Regions from separate parts of the Homo sapiens genome. Here region 1 is linked to region 2. Evidence: fine-mapped expression QTL. Tissue or cell type: naive CD8 T cells. Region 2 holds a variant in brackets; the other region holds the start of a gene. All regions are shown on one strand. Distances are from middle to middle.

Region 1 (8,175 bases), 43 kb after region 2:
CTGGGATTACAGGCATGCACTACCATGCCCAGCTAATTTTCCTATTTTTAGTAGAGAGGAGGTTTTACCACGTTGGCCAGGCTGGTCTCAAACTCCTGAACCCAAGTGATCTACTGGCCTTGGCCTCTCAAAATGCTGGGATTACAGGTGTGAGCCACCGTGACTGGCTGTGTCTGCCTTTTTCACTCTAGCCATTCTACTGGGTGAGAAATGGTATCTCACGAGGGTTTTGATTTTTATTTCCCTAATGGCTCATGATGTTGAATGTCTTTTCATGTACTTATTGGTCACCCGTATATCCTCTTTGGAGAAATGGTTATTCAAATACTTTACCCATTAAAATAAAAATTTCATCTTTAAGAGCAGTTTCGAGTTCACAGCAAAACTGAACAGAAAATACAGGGTTCCCCCACCCCACACACACTCATAGCCTCCCCCCACCAACAACATCAGGCACCAGAGGATATATTTGTTATAAGCAATGAAGCTACATTGACACACCAGTATCACCCATATCCCATAGTTTACATTAGGTTTCATTCTTGGTGTTGTACATCCTGTAGGGTTTGACAAATGTGTAATAACATGTATCCACCATTATAACATCCAGAGTAATTTCACTACCCTAAATATTCTCTGTGCACCACCTCTGTGCATTTCTCCCCACTCCCAGCCCCTGCCATCTTTTTTATTGTCTCCATAGTTTTGCCTTTTCCAGGATGTAATATAGTTGGAATCATACAGTATGTAGCTCTTTCAGATTGTCTTCTTTCACTTACTAATATGCATTTAAGGTTTCTCCATGCCTTTTCATGGCTTAATAGCTCATTTCTTTCTAGTGCTGAATATAGTCCATTGTCTGGATATACCAAGGTTTATTTATCCATTTACCTGCTAAAGGACATCTTGGTTGCTTTCAAGTTTTGGCAATTACAAATAAAGCTGCTGCTGGCCGGGAGCGGTGGCTCACGCCTGTAGTCCCAGAACTTTGGGAGGCCAAGGCGGGCAGATCACGAGGTCAGGAGATCGAGACCATCCTGGCTAACATGGTGAAACCCCGTCTCTACTTAAAATACAAAAAATTAGCTGGGCTTCGTGGCAGGCGCCTGTAGTCCCAGCTACTTGGAGGCTGAGGCAGGAGAATGGCGTGAACCCAGGAGGCAGAGCTTCCAGTGAGCCGAGATCGCGCCACTGCACTCCACCCTGGGTGACAGAGCGAGACTCCATCTCAAAAACAAAAACAAAAACAAAAGCTGCTGTAAACATCCATGTGCAGGTTTCTGTGTGGACATAAGTTTTCAGCTCATTTGGGTAAACACTAAGGAATGCAATGGCTGGATCTTCTGATGGGAGTATGTTTAGTTTTGTCAGAAAGCCAAACTGTCTTCCAAAGCTGCTGTACCATTTTGCGTTCCTACCAGTAAGGAGAGTTCCTGTTGCTTCACATCCTCACCAGCATTTGGTGTTGTCTCCCTTGCCCATTTCTAAACTTGGCTATTTGTCTTTTCATTACTGAGTTGTAAGAATTTTATGTATCCTAGATACAAGTCCCTTATGGAACATGTGATTTGCAAAAATTTTCTCCCAGTTTGTGGGTTGTTTAGAGGTCTTTTTTTTCTTTTCCTTTTGAGACAGGGTCTCACTCTGTCGCCCAGACTGGAGTCCAGCGGCGCAATCTTGGCTCACCGCAACCTCCACCTCGCGGGCTCAAGCGATCCTCCTGCCTCAGCCTCCCGAGTAGCTGAGATTACAGGTGCCCACCACCATGCCGGCTAATTTTTGTATTTTTAGTAGAGACGGGGGTTTCACCATGTTGGCCAGGCTGGTCTCGAACTCCTGACATCAGGTGATACACCTGCCTTGGCCTCCCAAAGTGTTGGGATTACAGGAGTGAGCCACTGCGCCCCATTTTTTTTTTGAATGTTGAACACAATGAATTTATCATGATAGTGGGTACTTCTGAAGGAGGCAGGGGTATACACAAGGTTAGAATCATACAGGTAGATATCATGGTATAGGTGCTGCGAGAGTCAGAAAACTGACTCTGGCACCAGCTGCCTGGGCTTCAACCCCAATGCTGTAAAGTAACTTAGTCTCTTTGTGCCTCAGTTTTCTCATCTATAAAATGAGTATATCAGCCGGGGGCAGTGGCTCACACCTGTAATCCCAGCACTTTGGGAGGCTGAGGTGGGTGGATCACCTGAAGTCAGGAGTTTGAGACCAGCCTGGCCAACATAGCAAAACCCCGTCTCTACTAAAATACAAGCATTAGCCATGCATGGTGGTGCGCACCTGTAATCCCAGCGATTCGGAAAGCTGAGGCAGGAGAATGGCTTGAACATGAGAGGCGGAGGTTGCAGTGAGCCGAGATTGCACCATTGCAGTCCAGCCTAGGTGAGTCTCACTCTGTCTCAAAAAAAAAAAAAAAAAAGGGTATATCAACACAATCTCACTGGTGTGTTGTGAAGCCTAGCCAAGTTAATGTACCTAGAGAACTAGAGAACAGTGGCTACTAAGGACATCTAAGGACACTTTATACAAACCTTAACTGTGTTACAACTTCTTAAGTCAGTACTGAGGTTCAAAAGCTTCCATTTTATTATTATGCTTTATAATTTATATATGTTACGTGCTTTCTTTTGTATAGCTCACTTGAATATATATATACATTTTAGAAGATAATAAGGAAGAAAAAAAGTATATCTGGTTTTTTAACCCTTCGAAATGGGAAAGTTTGGAGTAGATGCTCAGCCCCGGCCCCTGGCCCTTCCCCAATACTCACAGGCTCCTGTCAACTACACCTTCAGAAAAAGACGGAGCCTCTTAGGCAGCAGTCAGGCAGGTGGGGGCGATCTGTCAGGTGACCTAGACTCTGGGCCATCTCAGTTTCCTCACCTGTAAAATGGGGATGCTGAGGTACCTACCTGACCTATGAGAGCGGAGAACACTGAGATATCTTGCCCATGGCCTGCCCTGTGGTTAGCTGTCGTTTTTTCCTTGACACTTGTAGGCTCCTCTTCATGTTTACATAACCTCAGTGGGAAAACGCCAGCGAAGAGAGACACTCAGAATGGACGATCTAAAGTTCCTTCCAGCTTCCAAATTCTGGGCTGGTTTTCAGAGATCCAGGGCTCGGGATGCGAATGTCCCTGTCTACGATGGGGCTGCCGTTACAGCCTTCCTCCCGGGGCTCTGGAGACGCGCCAGCTCTTTGACACCTCTCCTGCGCTAAGGAAGAGTTGGTTTACAGAAAAGTAAGTATATCCTGGCCCTGCAGAAAGCCGCCAGGCGGCAGGACAAGCCCCACCGCAGCCCAGGCGCCATTATCTGCCTCAGCAGTTACCTCGGGGTCCCGCCACGAGGAGGTTCTTCAAGGCCTGCGCGCCCACGGACACTACCAAGGAGCGCGGCGGGCAGCCGGATAGCAGGACGCTGAGGGAAACCCCGCAGTCGCTCGGCGTCCCCGGCGCCAGCTCACGACCCAGCGACCTCCTGCGGCCCGAGCGTCCCCTGGCGGCAACGCCGGCTCGTTAGAGCGAGCGACAGATGGTGTAGTCCAAAGGCCAAGCGGCGTTTCTGTAGATGAGCATGCGCAGCACCCACCGTTCGCTCAGCCAGAGAGAGGCTTCCCAGCCAATCCGAGAGCCTCAGAGTCATCCTCCCGCCCACCCAGCATACAGGCGGGGCGTTCCTCCTTAGCCAATGGGAAAAGACATTCGCCCGCGGTCCGCACGCGCTGCTTGCAAAGGGGTGGGGTTGTGGAGTGGATGCTTTGGCAAGATGGCGGGGAGCGGCGTCCGCCAAGCTACTTCTACCGCCAGCACCTTCGTGAAGCCCATTTTCAGTCGGGACATGAACGAGGCCAAGCGGAGGGTGCGCGAGCTCTACCGCGCCTGGTATCGGGAGGTGCCGAACACTGGTGAGAGGTAGCGGCTTACGTGGGGACCCGGAGGCCGCCGCTCAAGGTCGTAGCCGGCCCGGCCGGGGTTTCTCATGGGCCCAGCTGAGGTCACCAACTTGGGCAGAGGCGACTGCGGGTGCTTCAGGGGAAGAGGGTCACCCGAGCCTACCATGGGCCGGACCTGGCGGCGGCGCGGTGGTCAGACCGGCCGTGCCTAGCATTCGTACGTGCTATCGGAGCTTTGGTCTCTTTTGTCCTTCGCAATTGGCGGGAGGACGATGACTGTCAGTGACACACTCACTTTGTGGGTGAGGCAGCGGAGGCACCGAGAGGTGAAGTGATGTGCCCAGGGCCCAGGCCGAGCCACTGTTGTACCCAGAACCCAAAGTCTAGAGTTGCAGAGTGTAATTATAGATGCCCGTTGGATTTTTTTGTTTGTGACAGAGTCTCGCTGTGTCGCTCAGGCTGGAGTGCAGTGGTGCGATCTCGGCTCACTGCAAGCTCCGCCTCCCGGATTCACGTCATTCTCCTGCCTCAGCCTCAGCCTCCCGAATAGCTGGGATTACAGGCGCCCGCCACCACGCCGGCCATTTTTTTTTGTATTTTTAGTAGAGACGGGATTTCACCGTGTTAGCCAGAATGGTCTCGATCTCCTGACCTCGTGATCCGCCCGTCTCGGCCTCCCAAAGTGCGAGAAAGAGGTGTTTTTGAGTGAGCTGGAGCACGGTGCCACTCCTCAGGGCTGTCGAGTCCCTGCTTGTGTGTGTGAAAAGGCGGTAGAATGTGGTGGTTAGGAGCACGGACTTTTCTTCAGGCGCTGCCCTCAACTAGCTGTGTGACCTTGGGCCAGTTATTTCATCTATTCCTCAGTTTCTTCATCTTTAAAATGGGAATAATAATTCCTTCTTCAGAAGGTTACTGTATTAAGTTAAAATATCTAGAGTGCTTAGAACAGGACTTGATGCATATTTAACTCATTAAATATTAGCTGCTGCCGTTGTTTTTGTTGTTATTTTTGTTATTTATAGGGCTTTCCTTAGCAGCAGCTTCCAAGCAGAACCCGGTTCTTTGACATATGAGAACTGTGTCTGCTCCACAGAGTCCCTGTCTTCAAGCTGACTTTTGGAAAAATTGCTACTGACCAGAACTTAAACCCACGCGATACTAGAGAAGGAGAAACTTGAGTGATCTGCTGGTTCAGGGACTGCAAATTCAGATGCCTTCAGGGGCAGGCAGATAAAAGATGTGTGTGGGGAGTGACTGTAGCAGTGTGTGTGTGTGTGTGTGTGTGTGTGTTTCGGGGTGGTGCATTCAAATTCAGCAGTTTGAAAACATAATGTTTGCCTGGCAGAATACTTCTAGGAGTACCCAGAACCCTCTCTGGTTGCAGGAGGAAGGTGCTGGGGGAAGGAGGACCACATTCAAAAAGGGTGGCTTGTGAAGGGTAAATCAGTGGCCAAGTAGAAGACAGAACCCAGGTATCCTGACTCTGAGGATCCAGCTCTTTCTAAACCGACCCCTCCCAAGACCTTCCCTCAAATTCTGTTTTGGGAAGAAAGTCCCAAAGTCAGAAGGGTCTTGAGAGGAGGAAAAGAAGGCAGAGGGCTACAGGAGCCTAGAAAGCAAGGGAAGAGGAGAGAAAAGAAGGGGTCAAGGAGTATGCATCCCTATGGGGAAGATCAGTGATCTGTAGCTGGCCAGTTACTCAAACCTGTGCCACACGGGTTTTATGGTATCCATCATCAGGACTCCAGCTGAGGAATCAAATCAAGGAAGGGGAATAAGTAATAGTGTTGAGAACTTAGAACAGCCTGAGCATTAATAAAAAACAAAAGTAAAATTTTAAGTATTTAATGAAAAAAACAGTAATGATAACTCACTTTTTTTTTTTTTTTTTTTTTTGAGACAGAGTCTCGCTCTTGTCTCCCAGGCTGGAGGGCAATGGCGCGATCTTGGCTCACTGCAACCTCCACCTCCCGGGTTCAAGTGATTTCCCCATGCCTCAGCCTCCCGAGTAGCTGGGATTATAGTTGCGTGCCACCACACCTGGCTAACTTTTGTATTTTTAGTAGAAACGGGGTTTCACCATGTTGGCCAGGCTGTCTTGAACTCCTGACCTCAGGTGATCCACCTGCCTTGGCCTCCCAAAGTGCTGGGATTACAGGCGTGAGCCACCGCGCCCAGCTAATAAAATAATAATTATTTTTTTTGAGACGGAGTCTCGCTCTGTCGCCCAGGCCGGACTGCGGACTGCAGTGGCGCAATCTCGGCTCACTGCAAGCTCCGCTTCCCGGGTTCACGCCATTCTCCTGCCTCAGCCTCCTGAGTAGCTGGGACTACAGGCGCCCGCCACCGCGCCCGGCTAATTTTTTGTATTTTTAGTAGAGACGGGGTTTCACCTTGTTAGCCAGGATGGTCTCGATCTCCTGACCTCATGATCCACCCGCCTCGGCCTCCCAAAGTGCTGGGATTACAGGCGTGAGCCACCGCGCCCAGCCTTTTTTTTTTTTTTTTTTTGAGACACAGTCTCACTCTGTCACCCAGGCTGGAATGCAGTGGCCCATCTCAGCTCACTGCACCCTCCACCTCCCGGGTTCAAGTGATTCTCCTGCCTCAGTCTCCCGAGTAGCTGGGATTACAGGCACCCACCACCATGCCCGGCTCATGTTTGTATTTTTAGTGGAGACGGGGTTTCACCATGTTGGCCAGGCTGGTCTTGAACTCCTGACCTCAGGTGATCCACCTGCCTTGGCCTCCCAAAGTGCTGGGATTACAGGCGTGAGCCACCGCGCCCAGCTAATAAAATAATTATTATTTTTTTTGAGACGGAGTCTCGCTCTGTCACCCAGGCTGGAGTGCAGTGGTGCGACCTCGGCTCACTGCAAGGTCCACCTCCCGGGTTCACACCATTCTCCTGCCTCAGCCTCCCGAGTAGCTGGAATTACAGGCACCCACCACCACACCCGGCTAATTTTTTGTATTTTTAGTAGAGACGGGGTTTCACTGTGTTAGCCAGGGTAGTCTCGATCTCCTGACCTCATGATCCGCCCACCTCGGCCTCCCAAAGTGCTGGGATTACAGGCGTGAGCCACCGCGCCCAGCCCATAAAATAATTTTTTAAAAAATACACTCAGGCACAAGAAAGTTAACTTACACGGGATCATATAGCTAACAAAAGCTGGGATTTGAACCCAGGTTGTTCAAACTCTTGAACAATGCTTTACTGCCTCTTCAAATTCAGTGGTCTTTTTCCCCAAACAAATAATAAGTTCCTTGAGAGCAAATACCATGAATCACATGTCTCATCCTCAAGCACCTAGCCTAGGGTCAGGCTAATTTTTTGGTGAAGAAATGAATGGGCGACCTGTATGTGTTCAATGAGTATCATTTGACTCTAGGTTTTATTTAACCATACAATTTCTACCCTGAGTCATGTTTTTCTCTCTAGTGCACCAATTCCAGCTGGACATCACTGTGAAAATGGGACGGGATAAAGTCCGAGAAATGTTTATGAAGAATGCCCATGTCACAGACCCCAGGGTGGTTGATCTTCTGGTCATTAAGGTAACTGACCCTCCCTGACCAATTTAAAAGATCAGCCAACTTGTCCACTACTTCTTAGTCTTTCCAAATGAACATTTTGTCTCCAAGTTTAGAAAGCAGCTACTGGTTCGGCAGTGATTATTGCTGTGTTTCAGAGAAATACTTGAACTTGGAGGTTATCATCTGGTTAAATAGATAAGATTCATCAAGGGAACATCCACTGGGACTTGCATTTTATAACCATAAAAAAAGATATAGGGAGGAAAGTTTGAACTCTTCTTGAACCTCATCCCTAGAAGTTACCACTTCATCTGAATGCCAGTTTACAGCTGGAAGAGGCAGTTAGGGTGGTTATGAGTCCTGTATAAATGGACTCAAATCCTGGGGCTGATTCTGTCCCCCTGGCCAGTCACGTTAGCATCAATGGGAGCTTCAGCATAGACCAGTCAGTAACAGAAGAAATGATAAGCAGAAACATAAGTTAAGCCAGTCAGGTTAGGTAGTCATGGGATAGGAGCCTGTTAACCTGTATGTTTCTCCTCTTGGTACCAGTTAACCACAGAGTTAAAGAATCTGAAAAGTGTCAGAAATGATTTACCCTGACCACCTCATTGTCCAGACATAGAAACTTTGCCCAGACAGAGTAGTTACTTGCCCAAGGTCATTCAACAAGTCCATGCTGAGCAGAGAATAGAATCCTGGCCTTCAGTGTCATATGCCTTCAACTTGAC
Region 2 (8,153 bases):
TGGCAGCAGTTCCGCCAGCATTTCTGTAAATGCCCTCATGCCAGGGTGCGGCCCGGCTGTCAGCACGAGAGGGACGTTGGTCTGTCCCCTGGCACCGAGTCAGTCAGAAGGGTGGCCAGGGCCCCCTTGGGCCCCTCCAGAGACAATCCACTGTGGTCACACGGCTCGGTGGCAGGAAGTGCTGTTCCTGCAGCTGTGGGGACAGGGAGTGTGGATGAAGCCAGGCTGGGTTTGTCTGAAGACGGAGGCCCCGAAAGGTGGCAGCCTGGCCTATAGCAGCAGCAACTCTTGGATTTATTGGAAAGATTTTCTTCACGGTTCTGAGTCTTGGGGGTGTTAGAGGCTCAGAACCAGTCCAGCCAGAGCTCTGTCATGGGCACGTAGACCCGGTCCCAGGGCCTTTGCTCTTTGCTGTCCTCAGAGGCCTCTGCAAAGTAGAAACAGGCAGCCTTGTGAGTCCCCTCCTGGGAGCAACCAACCCTCCCTCTGAGATGCCCCGGGGCCAGGTCAGCTGTGGTGAAAGGTAGGGATGCAGCCAGCTCAGGGGAGTGGCCCAGAGTTCCTGCCCACCCAAGGAGGCTCCCAGGAAGGTCAAGGCACCTGACTCCTGGGCTGCTTCCCTCCCCTCCCCTCCCCAGGTCAGGAAGGTGGGAAAGGGCTGGGGTGTCTGTGACCCTGGCAGTCACTGAGAAGCAGGGTGGAAGCAGCCCCCTGCAGCACGCTGGGTCAGTGGTCTTACCAGATGGATACGCAGCAACTTCCTTTTGAACCTTTTTATTTTCCTGGCAGGAAGAAGAGGGATCCAGCAGTGAGATCAGGCAGGTTCTGTGTTGCACAGACAGGGAAACAGGCTCTGTCCACACAAAGTCGGTGGGGCCAGGATGAGGCCCAGTCTGTTCACACATGGCTGCTGCCTCTCAGCTCTGCACAGACGTCCTCGCTCCCCTGGGATGGCAGCTTGGCCTGCTGGTCTTGGGGTTGAGCCAGCCTCCAGCACTGCCTCCCTGCCCTGCTGCCTCCCACTCTGCAGTGCTCCATGGCTGCTCAGTTGGACCCACGCTGGAGACGTTCAGTCGAAGCCCCGGGCTGTCCTTACCTCCCAGTCTGGGGTACCTGCCACCTCCTGCTCAGCAGGAATGGGGCTAGGTGCTTCCTCCCCTGGGGACTTCACCTGCTCTCCCTCCTGGGATAAGACGGCAGCCTCCTCCTTGGGGGCAGCAGCATTCAGTCCTCCAGGTCTCCTGGGGGTCGTGACCTGCAGGAGGAATAAGAGGGCAGACTGGGCAGAAAGGCCTTCAGAGCACCTCATCCTCCTGTTCTCACACTGGGGTGTCACAGTCCTGGGAAGTTCTTCCTTTTCAGTTGAGCTGTGGTAACCTTGTGAGTTTCCTGGAGGGGGCCTGCCACTACCCTTGGGACTCCCTGCCGTGTGTCTGGGTCTAACTGAGCTCTGAAAGGAGAGAGCCCCAGCCCTGGGCCTTCCAGGGGAAGCCTTACCTCAGAGGTTGGCTTCTTCCTACTCTTGACTTTGCGTCTCTGCAGAGGGAGGTGGGAGGGGTGACACAACCCTGACACCCACACTATGAGTGATGAGTAGTCCTGCCCCGACTGGCCCATCCTTTCCAGGTGCAGTCCCCCTTACTGTGTCTGCCAAGGGTGCCAGCACAGCCGCCCCACTCCAGGGGAAGAGGAGTGCCAGCCCTTACCCACCTGAGTGGGCACAGTGTAGCATTTATTCATTAGCCCCCACACTGGCCTGACCATCTCCCCTGTGGGCTGCATGACAAGGAGAGAGAACAGGCTGAGGTGAGAGCTACTGTCAACACCTAAACCTAAAAAATCTATAATTGGGCTGGGCAGGGTGGCTCACGCCTGTAATCCCAGCACTTTGGGAGGCCGAGATGGGTGGATCACCTGAGGTCAGATGTTCGAGACCAGCCTGGCCAACATGGTGAAACCCCGTCTCTACTAAAAATACAAAAAATTAGCTGGGCGTGGTGGTGGGTGCCTGTAATCCCAGCTACTCAGGAGGCTGAGGCAGGAGAATTGCTTGAACCTGGGAGGCAGAGGTTGCAGTGAGCCGAGATCACACCATTGCACTCCAGTCTGGGTGATAAGTATGAAACGCCATCTCCAAAACAAAAGAAAAGCCTAATTCCCCAAGAACTGTCAGTCTTTCACCTGTCTGCTAGCTCCCAGGGAGACCCCACTTGCCAGGGCTGTCTACATTTGTCCTGAGATCTCTTCTGGTGAGAACAGCACTTTCCTCAGGAAAGTTTGTTGAAAGTCATCAGATCCATGATTGAAAATCGAAGCTGCCTGTGGTGATGGATAACAGCTGGGGTTAAAAAGCAGCAGCTGGGGCATGAGCGGTCCACAGTGAGTTTTTGTTGTTTTTGTTTTTTTGGGTGGGGGATGGGGTCTTGCTAGGTCTCAAACTCCTGGCCTCAAGTCATCCTCCCATTACAGCCTTCTGAGTCACTGACACTACAGGTGTGAGCCACCATGTCCAGCTTGTAGTGGTTTTGAACAGCTCTTGCCCCTTCTTGGGAATCTAGGTGCCCTGCACGTGGGTAAGGCTGTCTGCAGCTGTGCCCATATTCAGGAAGGCCGGCAAGGCCCTGAGCCCTCACACGTGACTGACCTGAGGTGCTGTGCAGACAGCAGGTGACGGCTAAGGGAAAGTTGAGCACTGCCTAGCCGAGCACTGAAGCCACGCCCGGCACACAGAGAGAGACCCACTCGGCAAAGACTTCGCTTCCAGGCACCTAAGGAACTCTCTGACCAGTCATTAGCTGACCACTGCCGTAACTGAAGAGCGGCTTCAGTGGCCACAGCTCGCAGGGAATGGAGACATTAATGCTTAGTCAGAATTAGTTCAGAAAAGTCACCCAGCAAAGAAACAGCTCCAACAGGCAACAACAACAACACATCCTTGGCAGGGAAGAGAATCTGACTTCCGGAGTTGCCACATTATCGCCCGTGAAATGTCCAGGTTTTAACAAATTATGAGACATGGAAAGGAAACCGAAAGGACGACCCAGACACGGGAAAAGTCACCAATGGGACCAGCCCGATGCTGCAATTGCTAGACAAAGACGTTCAGTCAGCTCATTTAAATATGTTCAAAGACCTAAAACATGCTGCATCTGAGGCTGCACCGGCTGGAACCTGCTGATCTCGGAAGCTAAGCATGGTCAGGCCTGGCTAGTACTTCAAAGGGAGAAACCACGTGTAGGCCTGGTGCAGTGGCTCACACCTATAATCCTAGCACTCTGGGAAGCTGAGGCCCGTGGATTGCTTGAGCCCAGGAGTTTGAGAGCAGCTTGGGAAATGTGGTGAGACCCCCATCTCTACAAAAAAATTTAAAAAATTAGCTGGCTGCCTATGGTCCCAGCCTCTCAGGATGCTGAGGTAGGAGGATCACTTCAGCCCAGGAAGTTGAGGCTGCAGTGAGCCATGACTGCATCACTGCACTCCAGCTTGGGCGACAGAGAGACCCTCTCCCAAGAAAAAGAAAAGAACCATGTCAAAAGAACTAACGAAAGTGTGGGAACAATGTCTCACCAATTAGAGAATATCAATAATGGGATGAACCTTATAAAAAGGGGCTGGGCATGGTGGCTCATGCCTATAATCCCAGCACTTTGGGAGGCTGAGGCGGGCATATCATGAGGTCAAGAGATTGAGACCAGCCTGGCCAACATGGTGAAACCCCGTCTCTACTTAAAATACAAAAATTAGCCGGGCGTGGTGGCACGTGCCTGTAATCCCAGCTACTCGGGAGGCTGAGGCAGGAGAATCGCTTGAACCCGAGAGGCAGAGATTGCAGTGAGCCGAGATTGCACCACTGCACTACAGCCTGGGTGACAGAGCGATACTCCAAAAAACAAAACAAAACAAAAAACAAAAAAAAAGTTTAAAAAGGAACCAAATAAAAATTCTGGAGTTGTAGGGTAAAATAAATGAAAATTCATCCCAGGGGCCCAAGAGCAGATTGGAACAATTGGAAGAAAGAGCCTGTGACTATGGAGAGAGGCCACCTGAGGTAGTACCCTCTGAGGAACAGGAACAAGCATGAAGAGCAATGCACAGAGATCCAGAGACCTGGAGACGCCGTCAAGCTTTCCGACATACACGCAATGGGAGTCCCAGGAAAGAAGACAGGGAGAAAGGAGTAAAGGAATAGTTGAAGAATTAATGGCTGAAAAACCTCCCAAATCTGATGAAAAATATTAATCTGTACATCCAAAAAGCTCATCAAACTCCAAGTAGGGTAAACTCAAAGAGATCTTCAGCCATACGCATCATCATAATCACTGTCAAAAGACAGATTTTTCTTTTTTTAGAATTTTAAATGTACCTTTTAATTTGCTCCTGGGGCAAAGAGCCAGGACTGGTACTAGAGCAGTGTCTGGGATGAGAAGAATTTAATAAAATGGGATTAGGTCCAATGGTTGGGTTAGGGGAGGCAACCTGCTCGG[G/A]AGGATCAGCCTCAACCTATCCATGCAGCAGGGCCTCCACCTGTCCCTCTCCGTAGTCCCACACCTGGAACCCAGAGCCATCTGCCTCTTCCCAGATCATGGCCGACAGCACTCCACCAGACTGCGGCTGGAGCAGGCACAGGATTCACTTATTGAGGGCTGTGGCCTGGCACAGATCATAGCCTATACCCAGGGACAGTTGTGTCACTTCTGCCACCACCACATCCGCCTTCTGCAGCCACATCAAGTACCACTCATGGATGAGCCCGTCACCCCCAGCGGACTTATCAACCCCGCGTCCAGCTCCACAGCCGCCACGTGCTCGGTGAGCACTGGCTCCAAGCATGGCAGCTGCCATACAATCCACCTGTAGAGGGCCCGGTCCTCCTGTCCTCAGTGGATGATCCCGTAGAAGTCCAGAGCTCGGCAGCTGCCCTCCCACAAAAGACAGGATTTTGAAAGCAGCAAGAGAGAAGAGACGTATCAGGTAGTCACAGTGGCTCAGGCCTGTAATCCCAGCACTTTGGGAGGCCCAGGTGGGAGGATCGCTTCACCCCAGGAATTCAAGACCAGCCTGGACAACTTGGAAGAACCCGGTCTCTACAAAAAATACAAAATTAGCTGGGATTGGGTGCGGTGGCTCATGCCTATAATCCCAGCACTTTGGGAGCCTGAGGTGGGTGGATCACCTGAAGTCAGGAGTTCAAGACTAGCCTGGCCAACATGGTGAAACCCTATCTCTACTGAAAATACAAAAAGCTAGACGTGGTGGCACACACCTGTAATCCCAGCTACTTAGGAGGCTGAGGCAGGAGAATTGCTTGAAGCCTAGAGGTGAAGGTTGTAGTGAGCCGAGATTGCATCATTGCACAATGGAGGGGAGCCACCAGCCTGGGCAACAAGAGGAAATCTCCGTCTCCAAAAAAAAAAAAAAAAAAAAAAGAATTAGGCTGGGTGGTGCCTGTAGTCCCAGCTACTTGGGAGGCAGGGGGTCCACTTGATGTCGAGACTGCAGTGAGCCATGATCCTGCCACTGCACTCCGGCCTGGGCAACAGAGTGAGACCCTGTCTAAAGAAAAAAAAAATAAAGCAACATATCCTGAACAAAGGATCCTCCATAACGTTCCCACCAGATTTCTAATCAGAAACATGGAGGCCAGAAAGCAGTGGAGGAGGACGACCCTCAGGCAGCCCGGGAGGATGTTGTCACAGGCTGGGGCAAGGGCCTTCCGGCTACCAACTGGGAGCTCTGGGAACAGCCCTGTTGCAAACAAGAAGCCATAGCCCGGCCAGAGCCCAGGAATGTGGGCTGGGCTGGGAGCAGCCTCTGGACAGGAGTGGTCCCATCCAGGAAACCTCCGGCATGGCTGGGAAGTGGGGTACTTGGTGCCGGGTCTGTATGTGTGTGTGACTGGTGTGTGTGAGAGAGAATGTGTGCCCTAAGTGTCAGTGTGAGTCTGTGTATGTGTGAATATTGTCTTTGTGTGGGTGATTTTCTGCGTGTGTAATCGTGTCCCTGCAAGTGTGAACAAGTGGACAAGTGTCTGGGAGTGGACAAGAGATCTGTGCACCATCAGGTGTGTGCATAGCGTCTGTGCATGTCAAGAGTGCAAGGTGAAGTGAAGGGACCAGGCCCATGATGCCACTCATCATCAGGAGCTCTAAGGCCCCAGGTAAGTGCCAGTGACAGATAAGGGTGCTGAAGGTCACTCTGGAGTGGGCAGGTGGGGGTAGGGAAAGGGCAAGGCCATGTTCTGGAGGAGGGGTTGTGACTACATTAGGGTGTATGAGCCTAGCTGGGAGGTGGATGGCCGGGTCCACTGAAACCCTGGTTATCCCAGAAGGCTTTGCAGGCTTCAGGAGCTTGGAGTGGGGAGAGGGGGTGACTTCTCCGACCAGGCCCCTCCACCGGCCTACCCTGGGTAAGGGCCTGGAGCAGGAAGCAGGGGCAAGAACCTCTGGAGCAGCCCATACCCGCCCTGGCCTGACTCTGCCACTGGCAGCACAGTCAACACAGCAGGTTCACTCACAGCAGAGGGCAAAGGCCATCATCAGCTCCCTTTATAAGGGAAGGGTCACGCGCTCGGTGTGCTGAGAGTGTCCTGCCTGGTCCTCTGTGCCTGGTGGGGTGGGGGTGCCAGGTGTGTCCAGAGGAGCCCATTTGGTAGTGAGGCAGGTATGGGGCTAGAAGCACTGGTGCCCCTGGCCGTGATAGTGGCCATCTTCCTGCTCCTGGTGGACCTGATGCACCGGCGCCAACGCTGGGCTGCACGCTACCCACCAGGCCCCCTGCCACTGCCCGGGCTGGGCAACCTGCTGCATGTGGACTTCCAGAACACACCATACTGCTTCGACCAGGTGAGGGAGGAGGTCCTGGAGGGCGGCAGAGGTGCTGAGGCTCCCCTACCAGAAGCAAACATGGATGGTGGGTGAAACCACAGGCTGGACCAGAAGCCAGGCTGAGAAGGGGAAGCAGGTTTGGGGGACGTCCTGGAGAAGGGCATTTATACATGGCATGAAGGACTGGATTTTCCAAAGGCCAAGGAAGAGTAGGGCAAGGGCCTGGAGGTGGAGCTGGACTTGGCAGTGGGCATGCAAGCCCATTGGGCAACATATGTTATGGAGTACAAAGTCCCTTCTGCTGACACCAGAAGGAAAGGCCTTGGGAATGGAAGATGAGTTAGTCCTGAGTGCCGTTTAAATCACGAAATCGAGGATGAAGGGGGTGCAGTGACCCGGTTCAAACCTTTTGCACTGTGGGTCCTCGGGCCTCACTGCTCACCGGCATGGACCATCATCTGGGAATGGGATGCTAACTGGGGCCTCTCGGCAATTTTGGTGACTCTTGCAAGGTCATACCTGGGTGACGCATCCAAACTGAGTTCCTCCATCACAGAAGGTGTGACCCCCACCCCCGCCCCACGATCAGGAGGCTGGGTCTCCTCCTTCCACCTGCTCACTCCTGGTAGCCCCGGGGGTCGTCCAAGGTTCAAATAGGACTAGGACCTGTAGTCTGGGGTGATCCTGGCTTGACAAGAGGCCCTGACCCTCCCTCTGCAGTTGCGGCGCCGCTTCGGGGACGTGTTCAGCCTGCAGCTGGCCTGGACGCCGGTGGTCGTGCTCAATGGGCTGGCGGCCGTGCGCGAGGCGCTGGTGACCCACGGCGAGGACACCGCCGACCGCCCGCCTGTGCCCATCACCCAGATCCTGGGTTTCGGGCCGCGTTCCCAAGGCAAGCAGCGGTGGGGACAGAGACAGATTTCCGTGGGACCCGGGTGGGTGATGACCGTAGTCCGAGCTGGGCAGAGAGGGCGCGGGGTCGTGGACATGAAACAGGCCAGCGAGTGGGGACAGCGGGCCAAGAAACCACCTGCACTAGGGAGGTGTGAGCATGGGGACGAGGGCGGGGCTTGTGACGAGTGGGCGGGGCCACTGCCGAGACCTGGCAGGAGCCCAATGGGTGAGGCTGGCGCATTTCCCAGCTGGAATCCGGTGTCGAAGTGGGGGGCGGGGACCGCACCTGTGCTGTAAGCTCAGTGTGGGTGGCGCGGGGCCCGCGGGGTCTTCCCTGAGTGCAAAGGCGGTCAGGGTGGGCAGAGACGAGGTGGGGCAAAGCCCTGCCCCAGCCAAGGGAGCAAGGTGGATGCACAAAGAGTGGGCCCTGTGACC

Alleles and levels. Positions count from the first base shown, and alleles are read on the strand shown. Sizes are in standard deviations (SD) of each study's normalised expression.
In carriers of allele A in region 2, the expression in naive CD8 T cells of the gene that starts at base 3,592 in region 1 tends to be higher than with G alone (large effect, 1.1 SD a copy in Schmiedel 2018).

What was found. PIP is the estimated chance that this variant, and not a neighbour inherited with it, causes the effect.
Region 1: it holds the start of NDUFA6-DT, and the variant in region 2 is fine-mapped to the expression of NDUFA6-DT in naive CD8 T cells (Schmiedel 2018, PIP 0.95).

The regions. Positions count from the first base shown.
Region 1 is chr22:42,086,350-42,094,524 of GRCh38, reverse strand. NDUFA6-DT (NDUFA6 divergent transcript) reads right to left here and starts at 3,592. Exons shown (of 5, transcript NR_034118.2): 1 at 3,344-3,592; 2 at 2,925-3,228; 3 at 2,293-2,406. It overlaps NDUFA6 (NADH:ubiquinone oxidoreductase subunit A6), which reads left to right and starts at 3,753. Exons shown (of 3, transcript NM_002490.6): 1 at 3,753-3,919; 2 at 7,350-7,465. The coding sequence starts at 3,781.
Region 2 is chr22:42,129,301-42,137,453 of GRCh38, reverse strand. CYP2D6 (cytochrome P450 family 2 subfamily D member 6 (gene/pseudogene)) reads left to right here and starts at 6,644. Exons shown (of 9, transcript NM_000106.6): 1 at 6,644-6,842; 2 at 7,545-7,716. The coding sequence starts at 6,663. RefSeq lists enhancers at 43-630, 631-1,219, a cis regulatory region at 5,348-5,359 and promoters at 5,053-6,585, 6,172-6,638. The variant G/A (reference allele first, on the strand shown) is at 4,485.